5 separate regions of the Homo sapiens genome follow, and all the other regions are linked to region 1. The links come from fine-mapping of genetic effects on plasma protein levels. A gene starts in region 1. Each other region holds a variant in brackets. All regions are shown on one strand. Distances are between the middles of the regions.

Region 1 (5,138 bases):
TTTTTTTTTGCCTCCTACCCCCAGTCTTTCCCCAAAAGGCCAAAATCTAGAGCATTTGAGCCTTTGTCATTCACTGCCTGAGAGGAACTGGCTCCTGGGAGCAGAGACCAGCCGAGATTACAAGAAGCCTCTTCAACATGCAGCCAAGGCCCAGCCTTGGCCTCGGGAGAACATGGCTCTTGGGACACACGTAGGAAAAATTCCCTGCTTCTCAGCAAAAAGCCTCTTCAATCCTGGAGGGATCTTCTGAGGTTTGTGGGACTCCCTGCTCCCCACAAAGACTGTTTTCTTATACTTCCAGGAGCCCTGATATATGAATTCCTGTATGAGAGATTCATTTCTTTGTTCCTCACAGCATGAGGGGGTGGAGGAAGGGCTTCTAAATGCAAAAATCCTAGTGACATATTATATCTCAGAAACTGAACTTTACAGCCCCACCTTGTCCCTCTTGCTCTGCAACTACCAACCTCACTGGCCCTTTCTCTGAAGGTTGGACTGTGAGTGTGTGTGCAGGTGTGTGGACACCTTCCTTTTCACAACTCAAATGAGTAAAACCTGACTTTTCCCCCCGTACTGTTTACCACCTCCCCCTTCCCTCCACCCAAGGCACTTTCTTGTGTTCCAATGCCACTAATCCCTCTTACAGTAGAAACTCCGTAGTTTAGCTGCTGAGGGCTTGAATTTGTGACCCACCTGTTTCAGAAATATTTTCCTAGGGACCCAATGAATGCCATTACATACAAAGGTGGTGTAATGGCAGGGAATCTTTATGCGACACCATGAGGAGAGCCACCTATTGGGTAGGCTAAAGAGGTTGACTGCAGTGAGTGGCCAAGCAGAAGGCAGGGGCAGCTGGCAAGCAGAGCTCCGGGGCCACCCCCATAGCTTCCCACTACCCTGGCTCACACCCTAAGCTGCCCTCAGGGGGAGCAGGCCTAGGACTACCAGCCTGGGCACCAGGGGAGCTCTTGGGGAAGCTGAGAGGTCAACCTTGTAAGTTACTGCATCTGGCTTCTTCGCACAAGTTCATTGGGTTTTCAGAGTGTTCCTGGAACCTCAGGACAGGAGATGCCTGGAGTGCTAGAAATTCAGGATTCCCAAAAAATCCACTATCCCTTATGTCTGCAGCTGGACAAAGGGTCCCTCACGGTCCCCAGTAGGTTTGGGGGCACGTAGAAGTCTAGCCAGGGCTGGGAATTCTAGGGGGTGGTAAAGACAGGGTGCACAGCCACAGAATTGCCTGAGAACGGCCTGTTCCTTATTTGGCCTGTGACGCAGTTGGCACATTGAGCTTAGAGCAACAGGTAAACACAGCCTCACATTTGGAGTGGCCTAAAGGTTTCTACATTTCATCCCCACGGTGACTCAGTTGGTCAAAACAGGGGACATAATTGGTCCTATCTTACAGACAAGAAAACTGAGGCTCAGGAGGGGCAAGTGATTATCCCAGTGCTGCCCAGGGACAGATTTCCCAGGACTTCTGGACTATTCTTAGGCTTGCCGCTTCATGGCATAGATAGAACAGGAAACGGATGGAGCAGAGCTCAGCAAGGGAGATACTGGGAGAGCCTGTCTCCAGGAGGGACATGCCCCCACCCCAGGACTCAGCTCGTGGTCTGCATTCTCCCACTCAGTGGCCCCAGTGCCAACAGCACTGCTCAGAAACACTGCTGCCAACCGGTGCCCCTTCTGTAGCAGTGGGACTGGAGGGAGTTGCACACTCAGTCACGGAAACACCAGTGTCCTGATGTACAGCAAGCCCCTTTGATCAATCAGATGGGGACAGACTGACTCCTGAGTTCCCAGGGTCCTTTTCCTGAAGGAACATCCATTCTTTCCCTGTTAAACCCTGCATTCCTGGTCCAGCAGCAGAAAAGAGCCTTTCGGACACTGGAGCTTGAGGAAGATCTGTGCCTATTTATTAGAGAAGGTGGTGTTAGTATCAGGAAATAGGTGGATGGTGCTGGGTTTCTTGGGTTCAAACCCTGGGGCTCTGCTGTGTGACCTTGGGCACATCCCTACCCCTCTCTGGGCCTCAGTTTCCTCATGTGTCACATTACCTTGGATTAGACGGTCTCACTCTGATGGAGTTTTTAGTTATGTATCCATTCATTCAACAAACCTTTTATGAGTCAAGCCCTCCTGCAGGCACAGGGTTTGGTACACAGGATTCAGCAAGAAGACAGTCTGTGCTCTAAAAAAGGTCAGATTCTCATTCTGTAATGCTTTTTGGTCCTGCTGTCTTTTTATCATGCTGACTTACCTTTTCAGAAAATGCCCCCGCTTCCGCTGGAGAATGGAAATTGGCAAAGAGAGACGGAAAAGCTCCAATTTGCGCCTTTGCTATTTTAGGAGAGGTTGAAATTACGAGCCAAAGTGGAGTGATGCGCTAAGCGGAGTGACCTCCGTACTCCAAGAAAAGAGAAAACCCAGGTTCTCTGCTTGTGAAGTGGCTCGAGCTCTTAGGCGTGAGGCATTATTATATAAATTCAAGCTCGCTCGTGATCCTTAGTACCCTGAGTTGCCTGAAGGGGGGAATGGCACTGCCTGCGTGTGCAGTCCGGGAGTTCGAGCCGCCGCGGCAACCGGAGCGAGGAGCGCCCGTCCGCACCACCTGTCCCCGCCGGCATTCCAGAGTAGAGGCCGAATTGGCAGCGAGCCGGCCCGGGTCGGTCGCCGCCTCAGTTCGCGCGGGCCCTCCTAGGGGTGTGTCTCACGGATTCCACACCCGGCCGCTCCTGGACAAGCCCCGAAAGGCGTCTTCTTCCCTGGCGGGAGCCGCGTGCGCCCCGCTTTTCGCGCTGCTGTCCCGGGGCCGCCGCAGGCGGATGCACGTCCTCAGGCGACGCTGGGACCTGGGCTCCCTCTGCCGGGCCCTGCTCACTCGGGGCCTGGCCGCCCTGGGCCACTCGCTGAAGCACGTGCTCGGTGCGATCTTCTCCAAGATTTTCGGCCCCATGGCCAGGTACGTTCTAGGTGAAAGCGGGGTTCGCGCTCCCAGGCCAGGGCGCGAAGGTGCTGTACGGGGAGGGAAGGCAGCCGCGGGGGGTAGAGAAGGGCGTAAAGTTCCAGCTGGCCATTGGTGGCCCGGCTAGGGTCTCCGGAGGGGTGCGGCGCGCATTTGCCCACGCCGCGGCTCCGTCGCTACTGTTCCGCGGGCACCGGCAGCGCAGCGTCTCCGATAGCAAGTCGGGCTGCCGGCCGGCTCATTCCCCCAGGGTAACTCTGAGCCCCCGGCTCCGAGCTCCCTCGAGGCCGCCTACCGGGTGGGCAAGCGGGCGCGGGCGCCGGCAAAAGGAGGGCTTCGGGGCATGCGGGGAGAAACCCGGACAGAGGTGTGCGCTCCAAAGAGGATAGGGGCAGAAGAGCCCGGAGAGTCCGGCGGACGAAGCGGGATGGGGATGGGAGCGGGAGCCACCGAGAGTGGAGCGAGACACGCGGGGGCCCGGACTGGGGGCGTGAGTTGAGGAGTGGGGCGACTGGGCCCGGAGGGGTCCCACTGGGGCTAAACCCCGTGGAGGGGCTCCGGGGAGCTCCGGAGAGCTCTGGCGGGGGGAGGGGGCGAACGGCCCGCGGGAAGGAGTCGGGGTGGGGGTGTGTGTGTGCCGCAGAAGCCACAGCGCTGAGCCTGCCGGGAAGGAAGGAAGCGGGGAAGGGAGCCGCCGCCGCAGCCGCCGCCGCCGTGGAGTACTCGGTGCGGAGGGGAGGGGGAGAGGGGCGCAGCAGCGGCTCCAGGGGAAGGGGGCGGTGCGGGGGCACGACGAGCGCGGGCTGAGCTGCGGGATTGACGTAACGAGCTTGGGTTTCCCCCAGCGTCGGGAACATGGATGAGAAATCCAACAAGCTGCTGCTAGCTTTGGTGATGCTCTTCCTATTTGCCGTGATCGTCCTCCAATACGTGTGCCCCGGCACAGAATGCCAGCTCCTCCGCCTGCAGGCGTTCAGCTCCCCGGTGCCGGACCCGTACCGCTCGGAGGATGAGAGCTCCGCCAGGTTCGTGCCCCGCTACAATTTCACCCGCGGCGACCTCCTGCGCAAGGTAGACTTCGACATCAAGGGCGATGACCTGATCGTGTTCCTGCACATCCAGAAGACCGGGGGCACCACTTTCGGCCGCCACTTGGTGCGTAACATCCAGCTGGAGCAGCCGTGCGAGTGCCGCGTGGGTCAGAAGAAATGCACTTGCCACCGGCCGGGTAAGCGGGAAACCTGGCTCTTCTCCAGGTTCTCCACGGGCTGGAGCTGCGGGTTGCACGCCGACTGGACCGAGCTCACCAGCTGTGTGCCCTCCGTGGTGGACGGCAAGCGCGACGCCAGGCTGAGACCGTCCAGGTGAGTGCGCGCCGGTAGTCGAGCGGGACCCGGGCCTAGGCGGGCGGAGGGCTGGGAGGCGCGGCTGGCCCAAGCCGGGGACCTAGCGCGCACCCTGACGCCCGGGCGTTTGCACCCCGGCTGGGCAGGTGCTGGGCGCCCAGTAGCGCACGTTCGCCGCGCTGTGGCGGCCACAGAAAGGCTTTCCGCTCCGGCCCCGGACTGACCGTCTGTCTGTCCGCAGGGTGGCCTGCGTGATGGTTGGCAGAGCGTGCGGGGGAGGCGGCCGAGCGGCCGGAACGGGGCCGCTGGGACGGGGCATCGTACTCAGTCTCCGCACTGGAGAGCCCTAAAGAGCCGCGCTCTCCGTGCAGCGTCTCTGGATCCCTGCTTTCTTCTACTCTGCACCCGGGTTCCGAAGTCTCCTTTCAGCGCTCTCTTCCTCCTTTCGGCGCCCGCATTCTTCCCTCCCCCCGCTTTCCCCCCTATTTCGTCTATTTGCCTTGTTCTCCCTCTTTCTCTCTTGTGTCCTAGATGTTGTCTGCTCCTGTTTGCTCGCTGTTTCCTTCTTTCCATTCCCCTCTCTCGCTTTTATTCTTTTTCTCTCTTACCCTTTCTGTTTTTCTCTTCTTGCCGGACTTTTATCACCTCGCTCCTTCCCCGCTCTGGCTCTGGTCTTCCCGGGCGACTGGGTGTCCCTCTGTCGCTATTTTCCGACATCCAAGGAGAGCTCATGGTTCCCAGGCTTGCTTATCACTACTGGCTGCATGAGAGGCATCCGTGGCTCTTTGGGAGTGGCGGGGGGCACCCCGCGGACCGAAGGGCGG
Region 2 (3,091 bases), 870 kb after region 1:
CCCAGCTGAATCTGACATTCTGCTACTGGACATAGCAAGGAAGCTGGATATGTATGGCATCAGGCCTCACCCCGCCAGTGATGGTGAAGGGATGCAGATTCACCTGGCTGTTGCTCACATGGGAGTACTGGTGTTACGGGTAAAATCTCTTTCCTTTCAAGCCCTTCAGCTTTAGTGAGGGGTGGTTATCTTGGCTCAAACTTGGGTGTCCTTTCCCAAGGTGATCTCACCCCTCAGTATTATCACCAGCCAGAAAGGGAAATGGTCAATCATATTTACTTGTAGTTGCATGAAAAGTATACATGACAAACTAATAAACATAGTTAACTGCAGGGAATGGATAGATGGGGACAGAAATAGGGGTGACAGTGGTGGGAGTGAGACTTCTTTCTATATATATCTTTTTGTATACCTCTGATTTTCAGACCACGCGAATAGATTACCTGTTGAACAAACAACAAATAAGCAAAAAAGCAAAGCTGGTTGGACCGACCAGGAAAGCCAAGGGAGTTTAGAGGAGTTGGAAATGGGTGTAGGCTGCAGTAATTAAACAGAATAGCCTAGAGAAGGGTCTGTCAGAGCTGGCAAGAAGGCTTGACTATGTGGAAGGCATTGTGGGCAAGGAAAATGAGGAGACTGCAGGAGAGAGGTATAGAGTTAGATGAAAGGGTGTTTTGGAATTAGTGGGAACAAAGGTTATATATTCAATATAGATGAGGCAGCAAGATATGGCCATGATGTGATGTGGGCAGTGAGGAGCTATTGAAGGTGTTTGAGCTATTGGGGTGTCAGGAGAAAGAGGACATTGTTTTTAGCAGATGAATCGGGAAACATGGGAAAGGGGCGAGATTAGAAAAGCTATTGTAGTAATCCTTTCCTCTTGTGATCTCCCTGTGCTGGCCAGAAAACTTCCCTAGGCATACCCCTTCTTGCTTGCATTCCAGAGCATCCTTGTATCCCACCTGAAATGCCTTCTTTGACCACAGCTCCTACCCAGTGCAGCAGGATCAATCTGTGCAAGAGATGGGTCAAGGGCGGTCCCTCTCATTAAGTGCATTTTCTATCAGGTTTGCACTGTCTTACAAGCCAACTCTTGTTAATACATTCTGAAATCTGCCACATTTTTCATTGTAGGGAAATACAAAGATCAATACTTTTAACTGGGCTAAAATCCGCAAGTTGAGTTTTAAGAGAAAGCATTTTCTCATCAAACTTCATGCCAATATCTTGGTAAGTAGCTTTCTAATAAATTCGTTTACTTTCTGTTCACTGGGAATTTTTTTGGTTGTTTCTGCAAATCGTTTGAATGTAAATTGTAAAAGCCGGCTGGCCCTGAGTGATGGTGTGTCTTTTCTTTTGCCTTTGAAGAAATCAACCAGAGTTTTAATCATTTTTTACTAAAGGCAAAACACTAAGAAATCTGATTGGCAGTTTAGAGTTAACAAAGTAATAGGAAAATGGGGCAGCTCGGCTGAAAGGCAAGTCTCCCTGGAAACTGCTTTTTAGGGATTTGATAAGTCAAATGGGAGTGACCAGATCTAGGACTAAGAATACATTCATATGATGTTATCTGTTCCATTTTATAAAGTATCTTCAATTACTTTCCTTAAGCAAAAATTATTGAACACCTAGTATATGCCAAAAACAAGCAGGATGTGGGAGTCAGGTATACACGTAAGCAAAATAAACAGTTTTTGGGCAAGGTTGCATAGTAAAGGGTGAGACAAAGGTGCTAGAAATGATCTTCTTTTTTTATTCTAGAGATAGGGTCACACTGTTGCCCACACTGAAGTGGAGTGGTGACATGTAGCTCAGAGCAGCCTCAACGTCCTGGGCTCAAGTGATCCTACCGCCTCAGCCTTTTGAGTAGCTAGGACTACAGGCATGTGCCACCACACTTCGCTAATTTTTAAAACATATTTTGTAGAGACAAGGTCTCACTATGTTGCCCAGGCTGGTCTCAAACTCCTGGCCTCAAATGATCCTCTTACTCTGGCCTCCCAAAGTGCTGACGTTACCAGGCATGAGCCACTTAGTCTAGAAAGGAATTTTCTTATGACCATAAAGAAAATAAAAAGTGTGTATCAACTAATTTTTGACCTACTGAAGATCCAGCAGTTTGGATTTTATTCTCTGCATCTTGACCTTATAGAAAAGTGTTCATTGAGCAGTTCAAGAAACTGGACTTAGTGTGAAGCTCATGGAGAGCCCCAGAGGCTACATGCAGGAACCTGGAAAGGAATGAGAGAAGTGGGGTCAGTGCAGTGGGTTGATGGGGCTGCTGAAAACAGGGCTGCAAACATGCCATGTGAGGGGTACATATAGTGTCAGGAGATGGGGAAAACTCGAACTTTAGGTCTGGAAAGCCAAGATTAGAATATGCTAGATGAGCAATATAGAGCATTGTACAAGACAACCTATAGAGGAAAAAGTGTTTCTAACTGTTACACTAAAAAGACTCATGGACTGAGTGTAGTGGCTTGCGTTCATAATCCCAGTGCTTTAAGAGGTTGAGGTGGAAGGATCACTTGAGTTCAGGAGTTTGAGACCAACCTGGGCAACATAGCAAGATCCCATCTCAACAAAAAAAACTACAAAGAAATTAAGCGGGTATGGTGGCACATGCCTGTAGTTCTAGCTATTCAGGAGGCTGAGTCAGGAAGACTGCTTGAGCCCAGGAGTTTGAGGTTATAGTGAGTGATGATCATGCCACTGCACTTCAGCCTGGGCAACAGAGTGACACCTTGTCTCAAGAAAACAACAGACTTATGTACATGTAATCATCTT[A/G]TAAACCCTTCCATCTATAAGGAAATCTTCTCCTCCCTCCTGTTTCCTGTTGGTCATTTATAACTTCTCACCTTGAAAAGATGCCCTTTGACATGATTTTAATCTAATTTACTTCATAAAAATGTTTCTGGCAGAGAAGAGTGAGTAAAAAAGGTATTTAAGGTGAGGGGAGTGTGCAAAGCAATATTTGCTTCTTAGAGAAGGCTCTGTTTGTGAGCAGTGGCCCTGTCTATTCCTCGCAAGGTTGCCAATCATTAGGTTTCAGCAGGTGTGAAACCTACAGGGAGCCAAGTGGAAAATCAGA
Region 3 (5,138 bases), 170 kb before region 1:
TTATTATCTGATAAAGGTATGTACAGGTAACCAAAAGGATCTGTTTATCACGTGGTGTTTTGCTTTTGTTTGTTATTGTTCTAAACAAGAAGAACATGATATATCTGCTTAATCATTTATGGCATCCATTTCTATTTCTACTACCCCAGCTCAGCTATCTCTCGGGCTTCTCCTGGACCACTACAATAGTTTCCTAATTGATTTCCCTGTTACCAGTCTCATCCCCTCTGATTTTTTTCTTCCAATTAGCCAAGATAAATGTTTCTATACCACAACCCTGTTCTATACCACCTCCCTTCCTTAAATCCCTTCACCTAGTATCTCGAAGTTTCTGTGGGTCAGAAGTCTGGGCACAGTTTAGCAGGCCCTCTGCTAAAGGTCTTAAAAGAGACCTTCAAGGCAGTCAAGGTATCAGCTGGGGCTGTTGCCTTTTCTGAGGTTTGACAGAAAGGATCTGCTTCCAAGCTCATGTAGTTGTTGACAGGATTCAGTTCCTTGTAGGCTGCCAGATTGAGAGCCTCAGTCTGTTGTTGGTCATTGTTGGAGGCCAACTTTAGCTTCTTCTACGTGTGACAGCTTGCTTCTTCAAGGCCAGCAAGGAAGAAAGTGTCACTCTTAGCTAGATGGGCATTAGAGTCTTTGTTTTTGCTTGTTTGTTTATTTTGTTTTGTTTTGACACAGTCACATTCTGTCACCCAGGCTGGAGTACAGTGGTGCAATCTCAGCTCACTGCAGCCTCAACCTCCTGGGCTCAAGCAATCCTCCCACCTCAGCCTCCTGAGTAGCTGGGACTGCAGGTGTGCACCACCACGCCTGGCTACTTTTTGTATATTTTTTAGTCGAGACGGGGTTTTGCCATGTTGCCCAGGTCGGTCTCGAACTCCTGACCTCAGGCAATCCTCCTGCCTCAGCCTCCCAAGTAGCAGGGACTGCAGGCATATGCCAGCATGCCCAACTGGGCATTAGCACCTTATGTAATATAATCACATATATGTATTTTTTGTTACCTTTGCAGTTTCCTATTAGTTAGAAGTAGTCATAGCTCCTACCAACACTCAAGGGGAAGGAATCACACAAGGGTGTGAACACCAGGAGTAGGGATTATGAAGGCCAACCTGGAGTCCATCAGCCACAGTATTTCACCACCTAGACATAGAGCCACTATATTGCACAACTTCCTGGAGTTGTGCATTATGACAATCCTTTGCTATGTGTTGACTGGAAGAATAGATAAACCAGAGTTGGACCACCTTAGGCATAAAATTAGCTGAGATGTAACATTATAGAAAGAGTTTTAATGTGGGAATCCAGCATTTCCTCTGTCTGGGCCTTGGTTTCCTTATCTGTAAAATGAGTGACATAAACCAGCTGATCTCTAGATCAGCTTTCATCTTCAGAATTCTGAAATTCTACAGCATCTGTTTGTTTTCATCTTCATCCATCCCTATCTTCTTCATGACATAATAATAGCTAGCACTTACATAGCACTTACTTTGTGCTGGATATTTTTCTAAATGTTTTATATGTTTCAAATTCTCACAAAAACACTAGGGATGTAGGTTTTATTCTTTTCTGCATTATATGAATGAGGCAGTTGAGATTCAGATAGTTAAGTAATATCAGTCTTCCCCAAGGTGTATGCAGTAACCCCGATGCAGTACTATCTCTCTAATAGACACAAACAGAGGAAGGAGTGAAGGAAAGGAAACTAGTTTATGAGGGCTGACTGGTTATATTTAGGATTTTTTTTTCTTCAAGGTTCAAATTTGAGGGTTAGGCCCCATGAGATTCAGAAAAGGAAAACCAGACAGTTATTGCAGCTCTTTCTCAAACCTGGCATCTCCCCAGAGCATGGAAAGGGTATTAGTGGAACCAAAGCTCAGTACTTCCAGCAGTGGGAAGGAGAATACTGAAAAGCTGTAACGGGAAATTGAAAGACTCCCTCCTCCCTCTCCTGCCCCAGGCAATGACAGGCAGGTGCCCTCTCCCTTATGTCCTTTCTTCATCTGTCTTGGCTGAACAATGCCCCCTCCATGTTGGGAATTTCCAAGGAGAAAGACAAGTAGATAGGGGTCAGTCTGCTCTGGATGGTGCAAGGGAACTGGGTGAGAAAGGCAGTGAAGCAGAACATACCCAAGAGTGACAGTTTCTTGTTCATTAAATGATCAACTCCCCGACAGAACAAACTGAGTCAAAGTAAATCCTTA[T/C]TAGCCCTGAACTGGACTGGCCTAGTCCTAACACCTTGCTCTGCAAGTCATTCTTTTATTTCTCCACTAGGCATAATCCTATATCAAGGAGCAAGGTGCATTCTGGCTTTGTATTACTTTCCTATGAAGTGGTAGTTTCTGGTGCATGGAAAGGTATAAGGCTAAATCATGCACTGTGATCTCTCAACCCCTTTCTATCTAAATTAAATAGAAAGTCAGATGCATGGCAAGCCGCCTACTTTGTCCCACACTTGGAGACTACATTTTAGCTTTTATAGAATGGAATCAACAATTTAATGGAGAGAAATAAAAATGTATGTCCTTAATGACAACCTTGTAAAGAATGAAAACTCTGTCAACCTCCTTGACCCAGCCTGCAGACACAAAATGGGATGTGTGGGCTGAAGATGCATCCAGGCAACATCGTGGAGTGTGGGGTGGGTAGGGGGCAGGCTCTGAGGCTCCAGGGCCCCACCTCTATTTATTTAGCAATGGTACCTAGGAAAATTTGCCCTGGGAGACAAGGTAACTTGCTGCAGTGTTTCTGAACATGCTGCCAGCTAATAGTGCCTCCTGCATCAAAATAGCTTGCAGAAGTTCAAATTTAATGGGGGAAAATAAAATACAAAATCCTTCTGTTTGGATAAATCATTAGAAGGTTTTAATGACGGAGACTTCAGAAATTGCAGCTTAACATAATGTTTAAGTAATATAATGGTTAAGAGTGCAGACAGACTCTCAAGCTAGACTGTCTGTGTTCAAATCTCGGTGCTCCTGTTCACTATCTGTGCAACCGTGGGCAAGTCACTCAGCCTTTCTGTGTCTCAGTTTTCTCATCTCTGCAATGAAAATAATAGCATTTATACCTAGTAAGTAGTATTTACACCTAGTATTTATACCTAGAAAGTTGTTATGAGGATTAAATGAGTTAAATTTTGTGAAGTGCTTAGAATAGTGCTCAGCATGTAGTAAGTATATGTAAACAAAAAATAAATATTTGTTCACTTCCTGCTAGGTCTTATACAGATTTCCAGTTTTTGAGACAGGCTCTTGCTCTGTCTCCCAGGCTGGAGTGCGGTAGCACAGTCATGGCTCACTGCAGCCTCAACCTCCTAGGCTCAAGTGATCCTCCTGCCTCAGCTTCCCAAGTAGCACGGACCACAGGTGTATGCCACCATGCCCAGTTAATTAAAAAATTTGTAGAGACAGAGTCATACTATGTTGCTCAGGCTGGTACTGATCTCCTGGGCTCAAGCAATACTCCTGCCTCAGCCTCCCAAAGTGTTGGGATTACAGGCATGAGCCACTGCCTACAGCCAGATTTTTTTCTTGTTTCACGTAATTACCCTGGAAAGTACATACTATTATTCGCCATTTATTGATATGGAAACTGAGCTTCAACTAGGTTACACGGGTTCCCAAAGGTCATACCGGTTGTATGTTTGAGATCAAGATTCCAAATAGAATGTGCCTGATGTAAAAGTGAAGACTCCTTCCATCACACCTCAATAGCTTTCCATTTGTAGCTCAGTGGAATTTTGCTCCCCACTTTGTTGAAGGATGTGGACTTTGAACAAACTTCTCATATCAACCCCTCCAGCTGCCCTGGAGCAGTGGCTGCAAGGGCCTTCAGCTGTCATAGGACTCAGTGTAGGTAGCTTCTTGTTTTGTTACTTCTCACTTTCAGACTATTCCTCTGGACAGTTATAAGTTCTCATAGTAGGTACACAGAAATGTATTGAATCCATATCCTCTGTTATCTCACAAAATAACTTGTTTAATTCTTCTCCAACAAACCATATTGTTGTTCACAAGCAGGTTACATTTAATCTCTGGCTCATTGTAGCCCTTTACAAATTTTTCTAACTAGCCTGATTTTGAGCAGACTGTATGATTCCAGCTGCTGCTCCTCCCTTCCAACTTTTACTGTAGATCTGTAAATCCTTACTTCCCTTAGACATCAGCCATCAGGACCCCTACCCTGGTTCTTGTACCTTAGAGGACCGCCTCTGGCCCCATCAGGCAAAGGAGTTGGAGTTGGACATAACTGAATTTGAAGGTCCACTTATTTATTTATTTATGAGACAGGGTCTCACTGTGTTGCCCAGGCAAGAGTGCAGTGGTGTGATCATAGCTCACTGCAGCCTTGAGCTCCCAAGCTTAAGCAATCCTCTGGCCACAGCCTCCTGAGTAGCTGGGACCACAGGCACACACCACCACACCCGGCCTCCACCTGTTTATTAGGTGTGATAAGTTGGGCAAGTTAATCTAATTTTCTGGACCCCAATTTCCTCATCTAGAGAATGGAGACAATAAAATACACCTCAAAATGCTGTGAAAATTAAATAAGGTGATTAATAATATAAAATATTTATAATGGTGCCTCGCACATAGACACTAGAAAATTTGGGCTCTTTTTTGCAGAATAAATTTCTAGAATCACAGACTATACATTTTAACAAACAGCACCACAATTTCTCCCTTGAACTCCTTAAAATCCTCAGATAGATATTGCCTGGTTCCATTCCCCGTGATTGATCTATACTGACATAGTTTGCAAACTAAGAGCACAACATCTTGTGCACTTAATATATTCTAATCTGGTTCATCTACCTGATCTGATTAAAAATCCAATATATGGAGAAAATGAGAAGTAAAGCAGCAAAGGGGAAAGTAAAAAGCAAATTTCAGGATTGTGGTGGAATATGTTACTAAAGCTGGTTGCAGCATGAACTCCCATCCCACATGCTCTTTTGCAATGTGCTTTTGCCATTCCTCCCACTGAGAGGTAAATTTGGACTGGCCCTGTGACCTGTTTTGACCAGCAGAATGTGGTGGAAGTGACAGTGTATTTTCCAAGGTTGAACCTTGAGTGATCTTCAGTTTCTGCCTTTCTGTTTGGAATGCTTCTTCTTGGAGTCCAGCCACCAC
Region 4 (5,138 bases), 260 kb after region 1:
CAGGATCTCTGATTTCCCCTTCTCATGCAGGAGGTATTTTATGTCTTGGCAATGGGTACTTTTGTTCACTAATTTTCATGGCCTACAATCATAGGTCAATTGGCTCTGGGTCATTCTGGGGCTGAGGGAAAACAGGTAGTGTCCTTCAATAGATTTGGAGAAACTGGAGGGGGCCTCTTAACTTGGTGATTTTCCAGTAATGTGATTGAAAATGTACTACTACATTAATTAATTCAGTCATTACAGATACACTTATTGAGCACCTACCATAATTCAGCACGATTCTTAATGCTAGAGATATGACAATTGAATAAGACAAATATAGTTCCTTCTCTCAGGGAGCTTATATTCTGGTGGCAGATATAGATAATTTGGAGGAAGCAAGTCAACAAAATGTGTCCATATTGTGATGAATGTTATGAAAGAATTAAGTGGAGTGCTAGATAGGGGATATGTAGCCTTTGGAATAACCTCATTGTGGGGCAAACTTATCCTTTGTGGATGGATTTGATTTTTGGAAACATCAAAAATGATATGGGGCCAGGTCTTATAAATATATAATGGAAGATCAAATTGATTGATAAAAGTTTTGCCCCCAAATGAGGGTATATATGTAATTACTGTAATATTTTTGAGTGTCAGTAAAAATATATACTACACTAACTAGTGATAAGCACGCCCATGTTTTTAAAGGCAGTGAAAGGGCTCCAGCAATGGGTGTTATCCTTTGGCAAGCATTTAGGCATCTATAGCTACCAACAGCACTGTCTCCAGTTCTCTGCCTCTCCTCAATTCTGGTCAACCCTTGTCATCATTGGCAAATGTACTTTAGCTGTTATATTGGTACATAAAATAAACATTCAGAGACATTCCAAACTATGTAGTACAGCAGTAACATGTGAAATTTGATTCTGTCACAATTATAATTTAGTTCTCTCATTTCATTAGTCCAAATAAAGTGGAGTTTCATTTATGCTATTTTGTATCAAATAAATCTGTAGAATGCTAATACACCACTTCGATGAGATACAATCAATTTGAGTCTAGGAAAGGCAAGAATGTTATAAGCTAGAATGTCAAGATGAAGATGAACAGACAAAGGAAGCCATGATAGGAGAATTGAGGACCCCTTGTGTGCTCCTTCTTGTACTAACTTAAGTGATATCTACCATGTCCGTTTAGTGATCGTTCTAGACATGTCCCCATTAAAGGATATCTAATAGAGATGGTTTTGTAAAATGAGAAGAAGCCAATGATAGCCATTTAATTACATCTTTAGTGTGACGTTAGCTCCCTGTCTTGAGAAGCATTGATATTCTCCATGGGTGTTTACTTGAGCAACTACTCTGCCAGGCACTGGGAGTACAGAGGTGAATTAGAGAGAGATCCTGTCTTTATGGAGCTCACATTGAATTTGGGAGATAGAACTAACCGTTGTGGTAGAATATGGTTCATACTAATATGTATAAACGTAGATACTTGGTACTTCAAGGAGTCTGCTCTAGGTTGAGTCGTTGGGTCAGAAACTACTAAGGGAACTATTCTATGGTTTGCTAAAGCTAGTGATGGGGCAGGTATGTTCATTTCTTCACCTCATATAAATATCTTTGGACTCTTGGCATGATTCACATGCATACACTTTCAATCTATCTGCCAGTTTTAAAGGCAGGTATAATGGTGAGGTCTAGTTTCAAAATAAGTAGCTTTTATAGGTAATATTCTGTGGTTTCTTCTTGAATGTAGAACCAGACCGATTCAGAATAACTCTCATGTGACCTGTTGTGAAGAGCCGGCCTTAATTTTTCTTTCTCTTTTTTTCTTTTTGCAACACCAGCTCCATTTCTAGTAGCAAATCTGAGCCAAAAGCACAGATTCATTGACTGTTTGCATAAGACACTAAATAGACACTGAACAGAGGATTAATGTAGCCCTGTCTTCTGGGAGCTTATAGTCTAAAACAGACAACAAACTGGAAAGAATATCCAACACACCTGATATGCTCATTTCCCTTCTCATATAAATCCAAAGAAAACAGAAAGTGGCAAGTCACATTCTACAGGATTGGGAAAATCCCCTAGAGAGTATTTTCTTTTTGTGACTTTTCAAGTTAAAAGGTATTTTGTATATGACATGTAATAGATTACAGTGTTATTTGATGAAAATGCAAGCAATGTTCTTCCTTTCTTTTTTACTATCAACAAGTTACATTGGAAGGTGTGGATCAAATTAAAAGTGAATTCTTGATTTGCCATGGGGAAATATGTGCAGTATTTTAAATACTCTAAGGTAAGGGTCAACTTGTGGGAAGAAGAGGTATCATAAAAATTAATTTAAGAAACTAGCCTTGAGATATTTCCTAATAATCCCACAGGGAAAGCAACATCTGTGTCATAATAAAGGCGCTTAGTGTGACCTTTTT[GC/C]AAAAGGGAATATTACCGAAACATGACCAAAGTTTGGAGCTGAGGTACTGCAGTAAAATAATGGGAGTCTACTAAATATTTATAAGGATGTATTCATTTGTAAGAAAGTAGTGAAACAGTAGAACATCTGCCAAACCAAGGTTAATTTCCCAAAGCTCATGTGTTTGTGAGAGACACAGAGACAGGCACAGGAATAGAAATGCAGAGATAAAGAGACACAGAGAGAGAAAGTAGCAAGAGGCTGAGCCAGAGGTGGACAGAGACCAAGAACTGAAAATCAGCCACCCTATTGATTACCTTCCAACTCTGTCATGAAATTTACTGAGAGACCTTGGTCAGGTCACTGCTCTCTGGGCCTTGGTTTCTTCATGTGTAAGATGAAGGGATGGACTAGAATATGACTCTATAGAACTTACCAACTCCCTGGTTCTACTCTTAGCTGCAAGGTAAATGAAAAGGCAGGCAGGTGGGTAGGTAAAGATATACACGGGCAGGCATGGAGACAGACAGACTGGCCACATACATGCATACACAAGTTTCACAAAAATAGAACAAAGCCCAAATCATGGTAGACCAGTGAACTGTGAATCACAGAGAGCAGCAGCCAGATCCACAAAATCGTCTCATCGCTTTTGATACTGCCATGGTGAAAACTTGGCAGATTTCCTTTTACCTAGCACTTGCCCAGCTTCCTGGAGGCCAGCATTCAGACCTTTTCTGACTGGCTTGGCCGACCCTTTCCTCCACCGACTCAGAGGATTAGTTATGTCAGGATCTGCAAATGACCTCTGATGCCCAAATGGAAGAACTCAGCCTACTCTTCTAACTCTTAACACTTGAGGATGAAAAAACTCACATAACCTACCATGCATATTCTTGTCCAACTTTCTGTCTGGATATCTGTCTGGTTGTAATGTTCTATGGATAATTTTAAGCACGCTGTGTTCACCAGGCTTTCAAAGGTAACCACTTTTAAACTTTTGTGAGTCTTGTTTGCAGGGGCATGGAAATGAAGAGAATAATTAGTACTTGTCGAGCTCCCAGCCAGCGAATGACTTTAGTAAGGTGCTAACAATGCACTCAAGTGAGTGCAGCAAAATGATGAGGACTTACAGATGGATTTTAGTATCTGGTTTATTTCACTTCCATTGGTTTTTGCAAGATGTAATATAGTGTGATTTTTCTTACTTTGACTGCTTATAATTTATCAGCCTTCCCCAAAATAATACCCCCATAGTTTAATCTGAGGGCACATGAGCTGATAGTAGGTACCCCTTTGGGAAAATCTGATTAAGCATTTGTTTCTCAAGAAACTCCTTTGGTATCTGGGACACCATTTTGAATACATCTAGAGCTTCACATTTTGATGCTAGTACATTTTATAAGAATCTATGAAAAGCAACTCCATCAAAATTGTGTTTCCTTAGAGAAAGATAGTGCATTAGGATAACAATCTGTATTGCACCCATTACCATAGTACTTTCTTAAGAGGTTTTTGCCATCACTGGAAGCCTTACTCTTCCAGGACAAGTGAGCCCTGAGAACACAGGCTAGGGTGGGCATGATGTGTGAGGATGAAGAAGCCAGGCTGGCTGCAGTCAAGCTTGCTCTTATACCAAGTGGCGGATGGGTTTGGTTGAGTCATTGTAGCTAGCGAGAGAGGATGCTGAAAGACACAAGAGAGGCTTGGCTTCCACATATATCTCCAGCGCCACCTCGTCCCTGGGGTCCAGACTCCTGCAACTCTCACACCACTCCTGTCTCTACTGGGAGGTTTAGTTGGGATCTCAAACTTCACCTGCCCCCAGACAAACTCCTGACATTTCCCCAGAACGTGGTCCTCTCCCAATCTTCCCCGCCTCAGTGAGTGGCATCTCTGTCCTTACCAGTTGCTCAGGGGAAAATCTTCAAGGTATCTTTTGCATATCTTTTTCTCCCCCAGGCCATGTCTAATCCACTAGCAAATTCTGTCTACTTCACCTGCATAATATATCTGGAATTTGACCGCCTCTCGCCACCATCAGCTCTGTCATCCTAGTCCAAGCCGCCATCATTTCTTACATGGGCTTCTGTAAAAGCCTACTAGCTGGCTCCCCTGCTTCCTTTATTGGACCCCTACAGTCTTGTCTAACCACAGTGATAACCCTTTTAAAATGTTAATTGAGATGTTGTCATTCCTCTTTTCCCAGCCCAGCAGTGGCTCTCCATCTCCTTCAACAACCAACCCTGCAAGGTTCCTGCAAGCTCCATCTCTGACTTTATATTTTATTACCCTGCCTCAGGCCCATTTTTCTCTAATCACACTGGTCTCCTTGCTTTACCTTAAATATACCAGGCCTCTTGCTGCCTCAGGGCCTTTGTATTTGCTCCTCTTTCTACCTGGAATGCTCTTCCCCTAGATATCTGCAGGGCTGGGTCCTTATGTTCATTCCAGTCTTTCTTGAAATGTCATAGGAATAGGATTGCCAAGGAGTCCAATTCTTAAAAAGAGGTCACTGGTCTTGGCCAGCAGGAAGTCACTGATGACTTTTTAGAGGGCAGCTGCAGTCAAGTGGTAGAAGAGGAGCCACATTGTTTTTGAATCATCTGTATCCCTTACCAGGCTGTGCACCGCTCGAGTCTGGTGCTGTTGTCTCATTCATTTTTGTCTGTCTAGTACCCTCCACAGTGCCTGGCACCAGTAGGCACTCAGTGTTTGTGGGATGAGGGCACGAGTCT
Region 5 (5,138 bases), 910 kb after region 1:
TTGTCTCCTGTGCAAAGTAAGGAGCAGATAGAAGAAGCCTTCTTGGATACTTAAACCACAGAAACAGACAGCTGAAAGAACTCTTACAAGTTCTCTAGGTGCTCTCCAATCCTGGCTATAAATTAGAACTACCTATATCACTTTTAAAATGTGGATACCTAGGCTTTACCCCAAAACTACTGATTCAGCCTACTGAGACTGGGGCCTTGCAACCAATACTTCTGAAAAAGCACCCCAAATGATTCCTGTGTAGTCATTTGAACACTAGTCTCGACATCAGCACTTGGGAACCACTAAGCAGATGGATGTGAAATTTGTATCCTTGATTACAGGGAACCCATTATCCTTATTTTTCCCAGGCAAGCATATGGGTCTCATCTAATTCTGTACATTAAAAGTGGACAAGTTGGAGATTAAAGTAAAACTAAGAGGACTTTGGCATTTACTATACATACCTATATTTTTAAAAATGAAGTCTGCAATACTTCTTCTAAGGATATGTCTCTAAAATTAGCACTGGTGACCCTTGAACAACATGGGTTTTAACTGTATAGGTTCACTTACACACGAATTTATTTTCAACCAAACACAGATCAAAGATACAATATTTCCAGAATGTGAAACCCATGTATAGGGAAGGCTGACTTTTCATATATGTGGGTTCCGCAGGGTCGACTGCATGACTTGAGTATGCACCAATTTTGGTATACACAGCAGAAGAAGGTATCCTGGAATCCCGAGGGATGACTCAAGATTAGAAACATAATGTTTGTCAAAACACAAGCAACATATCCCGTACACTTTGTATACATATTCTTAAACATTGTTTATACCCAATATAGTCTATGTATTGTCGATAGGGCCTATAATAGGTTAAGATGTGACTGATGACAGAGTTTTGAGGATAACAGCCAACATTGATGAAGGATAAAATTTTAGATCTAGTTAGTAGAAAATGGGTCAACTTGTGGAGGGGGGCATTAGGAATTGGTGGCCAGGAGAAACAAGAACATTGAAGACGGATTTAGAATTAGTCTTGGAGTTCTCGCAGAATGGGGACCTAGAGAGCAAAATGTGGGAAAGAACCAAGGTAAAGAATCTAGTTCTTTGAATTTGAACTACCTAACTAAGACCCCCAGTAAGACTCTGGGACTGAGAGTGAAAACATAATAGATGTAAGGAAGAGGAGGCAGATTTCTCACAGGATTTGACCTGGAAGGATTCAACTCACGTATCCTAAAAGAATCTTCCAGAACTAAGAACCAAGCTGAGTAAGGTTGAATTGTTTTGCACCTGCCTTCCTACATTAATAAAGCCCATACTATGAATGCTGTAGCTATAAAATAACTTTTTGCACTTTACAAAGACTGGCCTGTATATAGGCCTATCAGTGACTCATTGATGAGGAGGAGTGTTACAGGAAATAATGAGCAAATAATGTGCTAATGATATCAAGGCTTAAAAGAAGATTTCTTACTTCCTTGAAGTCCTCAAGTGGGAACACCAGGAGTGACTTGCAGTGAATACAAAGTGCCCTGACAATCACAGAGAGCAACTAAAAACTTCAGCCTAACAATGTACTAAACTAGAGATATTTAGCTACCTGTTTAAATTGATCAAATCAGTTCTCCCAGGCTAGAGACGAAATGTTTTTCTGGATTACTTCCATGTATATACAGTTTCCTGTCATCTAAGAAGCAGAATGCATATAAATAAAAGTCATTCTCTAGTTGGTTTATGAGCCTCAAATTAAATTACTGTTCTATTATGATTGCCTGTGTTAAGATTTTTCACTTGCCCTTATGAACATTGCCTAAAATGTTTGCTGAATGTTTCCTAATCAAGATATCATTTTTTTAAAAAAAAGGAGATTTAGGCCAGGTGCAGTTGGCTCATGCCTATAATCCCAGCACTTTGGGAGGCTGAGACAGGTGGATCATTTGAGCTCAGCTGAGTCCAAGACAAGCCTGGGCAACAGGGTGAAACCCTATCTCTACTAAAAAAGAAATACAAAAAATTAGCCAGGCATGGTGGCACGTGCCTGTAGTCCCAGCTACTCAGCACACTGAGGTGGGAGGACCACCTGAGCCTAGAAGGGCGAGGCTACAGTGAGCCATGATCACACCACTGCACTCCAGCCTGGGCAACACAGTGAGAGCCTTTCTCAAAACAAAACAAAACAAACAAACAAACAAAAAACAGAATTTTAATGTCAACAGCCGTATAACTCTTACCAGTGCTGAGTTCGAGAAAACAGGACACTATCTTTTTTAAGTGCCAGATATAATCCATATACAATTGGCTGCTCTCTCAATCACGGGCTTTTAGAAATGGAAGGAAATGTATATAGGTCATTCAATCCAACTCTTTATCATCACCATCAGCAACAAGCATTTATTGTATACCCGTTTTGTCCTAGGCTAGGATCACTAAATGGAAGCTATGTAATTTAAGGCCATTTATGTTAAAATGGTAAGTCTTAGAGAAATTAAGAAGAGATACAGACTCTTGAAATTAAAAGAATTAGATAATCTTTGAGATGAACAGGAACTTAGCAAACTTGTCCAAAATATATTTTTACAGGGAGGAAACTATACCCTGGAGAGGTTACAAATTGTTCAAAGATAAAAGGTAGTTAACTAGTGGCAAAGCTTAAATCTGAACGCAGATCTCCTGACTGTTATGTCTAAGGTTCCTTCACTACAGCTAGGATTTATTTGTAATTTAAACTATAACCCCTTTTGCTATAAAAGCAAAATTATTTTCCATCGTAAAGAGATCACACAATTGTCTAATGTCTACTCTGTACTATCCCAATGCTTAAAGAATTTGAAAAATGTAAACTTAAAAGAATTGAAAAAATTTAAAATAGGACTTTTCTATATTTAAACTGATAT[A/C]ATTTTTATTAATTTTTTAAACTGACAAAATTGTATGTATTTATCATATACAATAAGATGTTTTGAAATATACAGTATATACATCATGAAATGACTAAATCTAGCTAATTAACATGCATTACATGCTATATTTCTTATCTTTGTGGTGAGAACACTTAACATCCACTCTGTTAGTATTTTTCAAGAATACAATGTATTATTATTAATTATATTACCATGTTGTGTAGTATATCTTCTGAACCTATTCCTCCTAACTAAAATTTTGTATCCTTTTACCAATCATTTGCAACAACATGGATGATCCTGCAAGACAGTATGCTAAGTGAAGAAAGCTAGGCACAGAAAGACAAATACTGCATTATCTCACTCACATGTGGAATATAAAAAATTGACCTCATAGAACTAGAGTAGAATGGTAACCAGACTGTGGTGGTTGGGGTTTGGTGGGAAAGATGTTGGTGAAAATGATGCAATTTTTTAATAATTGTTGAACCACTATGCAATTGATTGGCCCTCATATGTATGCACAACTACCAAATATTTCATATTACAATTTTAAAGAAAAATGATTCATAAGTAATCTTGACTTTCTGGCATTTCTCAGACTATTTTTTTTTCCATGTCAATAACTAGGCTGGAATGGGCTAGCCTCTAGAGTGTAGGAGATAAAGTAGTGATGCCATTCCATATCATGATTCCCATAGGATCCAATGTCAAGAATCCAACAGCTCCAATTCCAGCTTTATCAGTGATTTGTTGTATACTTCAGTAACCCTTAATACTAAGGTTTCCAGTTCTGTTCATTTAAAACCCCCCACAAATTGATGAAATTGTCCAGGAATAAAAAACAACATTTAGCATCAATTGTTAATTTTGTGCTAGGTTTATGCAGGCCTAGAATTGTTCAAATGACCATGCATGCTCAGATTACTTTAATAATCAGAAGGATAAAATAAACTCCCCACAAAATTTTCTCAACCTTTGAAAAATGTGATGTTAGCAGAGTAATTTTTTACTTTGCACAACTTCAGGTTCATACTACAAGTTATCAGATAAAATTTTATGGAATTCTTTAGAGATCCCTGTGATTTATATTTCTGAAGTGAAATACTTAGCTCCACTGTATTTTGCATATGACAGAATAAGAACTAAGATAAAAATTAAGTATGTCTGTATATGTTTCAAATTAAACATGAAGAATTTGGCTTCAGGTTAAATTTCTTTATGTGGACAGTCATTTAAATTTGTATTTCCATATTTATAAGGGCTCAAAATATTTTAACTAAGTGTACAATGAAAATGTTATTAGCTTACCTATTTTTATGGTATACTTACATTTTTACATCTTTCTCAAAGTTTATTATAACTTGCCTTTGCAACATAAAGTAGCAGTCAAATTCCCAGATTTTACATGCATGAAATGAGATAAATGAAATGTAGTAGGGATATGTCATTACATCAACCCTGGGCTTCCTTGTGGTCATCAGACAGCATTTTATCAACTCACAGTTGACTCCTTATCTTTACCCACCTACTTAAACGGCAGTTTTGAGACGAATGAGGCAACAGCACTCCAACCCTGGTCTCAATGGTGAAGCATAAAGTCAAAGGTCTCACACAGTATTATTTCATACTATTAAGGCAACTGTTTAAACTTTCAGCAATTTTGTGCATAGCAGCAAGAAAAATGTGTTCATAAGGCAGAAATAAAATTAATTGTATAGGTACTTTTTCATCTTCTCTTTATTTTATTATTCTTATTTTTAAATGCATCTCATTAGCAAAAATACTTAGAATGAGATATTTTAGTAAAGGATAACTTCATTAAAATTATTACAAAAGATTTTGACATAGCGTATGAATAACATAGCAGTTTGAGGAGTTTCTCCTGACTAATAATTTTGAGTCTAATTCATCTTTAAGAACAAAAGAATAATTGATAATATTCCTTCATCTTAATTCCTCCTACTCACGAGAGGATAGGAAAAGAGCTTCCTCTGCCTGCTAACTTGCATTCCTCTTTTTACCCCAGCTCAGATCAGAGGAAAAGAACAAGAAAGCAAGCAGGATACATTCTGGGATGTGAAGAATGCTGTTCTTTACATGTTTGTAAGACAGTTCATTTTACAATGGAGTAAAGAAGAATGAGACATTTCTTTGATTCTATTGTCACTTAACCACATATCACATTTTTCCAAAGAAAAATGAAATATGGAAAGAACGAGAATAAATTTAATAACT

Alleles and levels. Alleles are on the strand shown, and positions count from the first base shown. The strength of an association depends on the size of the effect and on how common the allele is.
For the plasma level of the protein whose gene starts at base 2,511 in region 1, A is the high allele of the variant in region 2 and G is the other (moderate association).
For the plasma level of the protein whose gene starts at base 2,511 in region 1, T is the high allele of the variant in region 3 and C is the other (moderate association).
For the plasma level of the protein whose gene starts at base 2,511 in region 1, C is the low allele of the variant in region 4 and GC is the other (strong association).
In carriers of allele A in region 5, the plasma level of the protein whose gene starts at base 2,511 in region 1 tends to be higher than with C alone (moderate association).

What was found. PIP is the chance, under the fine-mapping model, that this variant and not a neighbour inherited with it causes the effect. Protein levels are from antibody-based Olink assays in UK Biobank. Linkage for the fine-mapping came from a reference panel and not from the study's own genotypes, which makes the PIPs less certain.
Region 2: its variant is fine-mapped to the plasma level of the HS6ST2 protein (UK Biobank, PIP above 0.99).
Region 3: its variant is fine-mapped to the plasma level of the HS6ST2 protein (UK Biobank, PIP above 0.99).
Region 4: its variant is fine-mapped to the plasma level of the HS6ST2 protein (UK Biobank, PIP above 0.99).
Region 5: its variant is fine-mapped to the plasma level of the HS6ST2 protein (UK Biobank, PIP above 0.99).

The regions. Positions count from the first base shown.
Region 1 is chrX:132,956,002-132,961,139 of GRCh38, reverse strand. It overlaps HS6ST2 (heparan sulfate 6-O-sulfotransferase 2), which reads left to right and starts at 2,511. Exons shown (of 5, transcript NM_001394073.1): 1 at 2,511-2,965; 2 at 3,814-4,332. The coding sequence starts at 2,538. LOC124905219 (a long non-coding RNA gene) reads right to left here and starts at 3,705. Exons shown (of 2, transcript XR_007068337.1): 1 at 2,264-3,705. RefSeq lists an enhancer at 2,632-3,132.
Region 2 is chrX:132,082,629-132,085,719 of GRCh38, reverse strand. It overlaps FRMD7 (FERM domain containing 7), which reads left to right. Exons shown (of 12, transcript NM_194277.3): 7 at 1-139; 8 at 1,135-1,230. Among named protein-coding and RNA genes, the nearest start is that of FRMD7, 44 kb to the left of the region's middle. The variant A/G (reference allele first, on the strand shown) is at 2,788.
Region 3 is chrX:133,127,343-133,132,480 of GRCh38, reverse strand. No RefSeq gene overlaps it. Among named protein-coding and RNA genes, the nearest start is that of USP26, 33 kb to the right of the region's middle. The variant T/C (reference allele first, on the strand shown) is at 2,208.
Region 4 is chrX:132,694,049-132,699,186 of GRCh38, reverse strand. All of the region lies in intron 3 of HS6ST2 (heparan sulfate 6-O-sulfotransferase 2), which reads left to right. Among named protein-coding and RNA genes, the nearest start is that of HS6ST2-AS1, 29 kb to the right of the region's middle. The variant GC/C (reference allele first, on the strand shown) is at 2,420.
Region 5 is chrX:132,046,025-132,051,162 of GRCh38, reverse strand. All of the region lies in intron 2 of STK26 (serine/threonine kinase 26), which reads right to left. Among named protein-coding and RNA genes, the nearest start is that of STK26, 25 kb to the right of the region's middle. The variant A/C (reference allele first, on the strand shown) is at 2,898.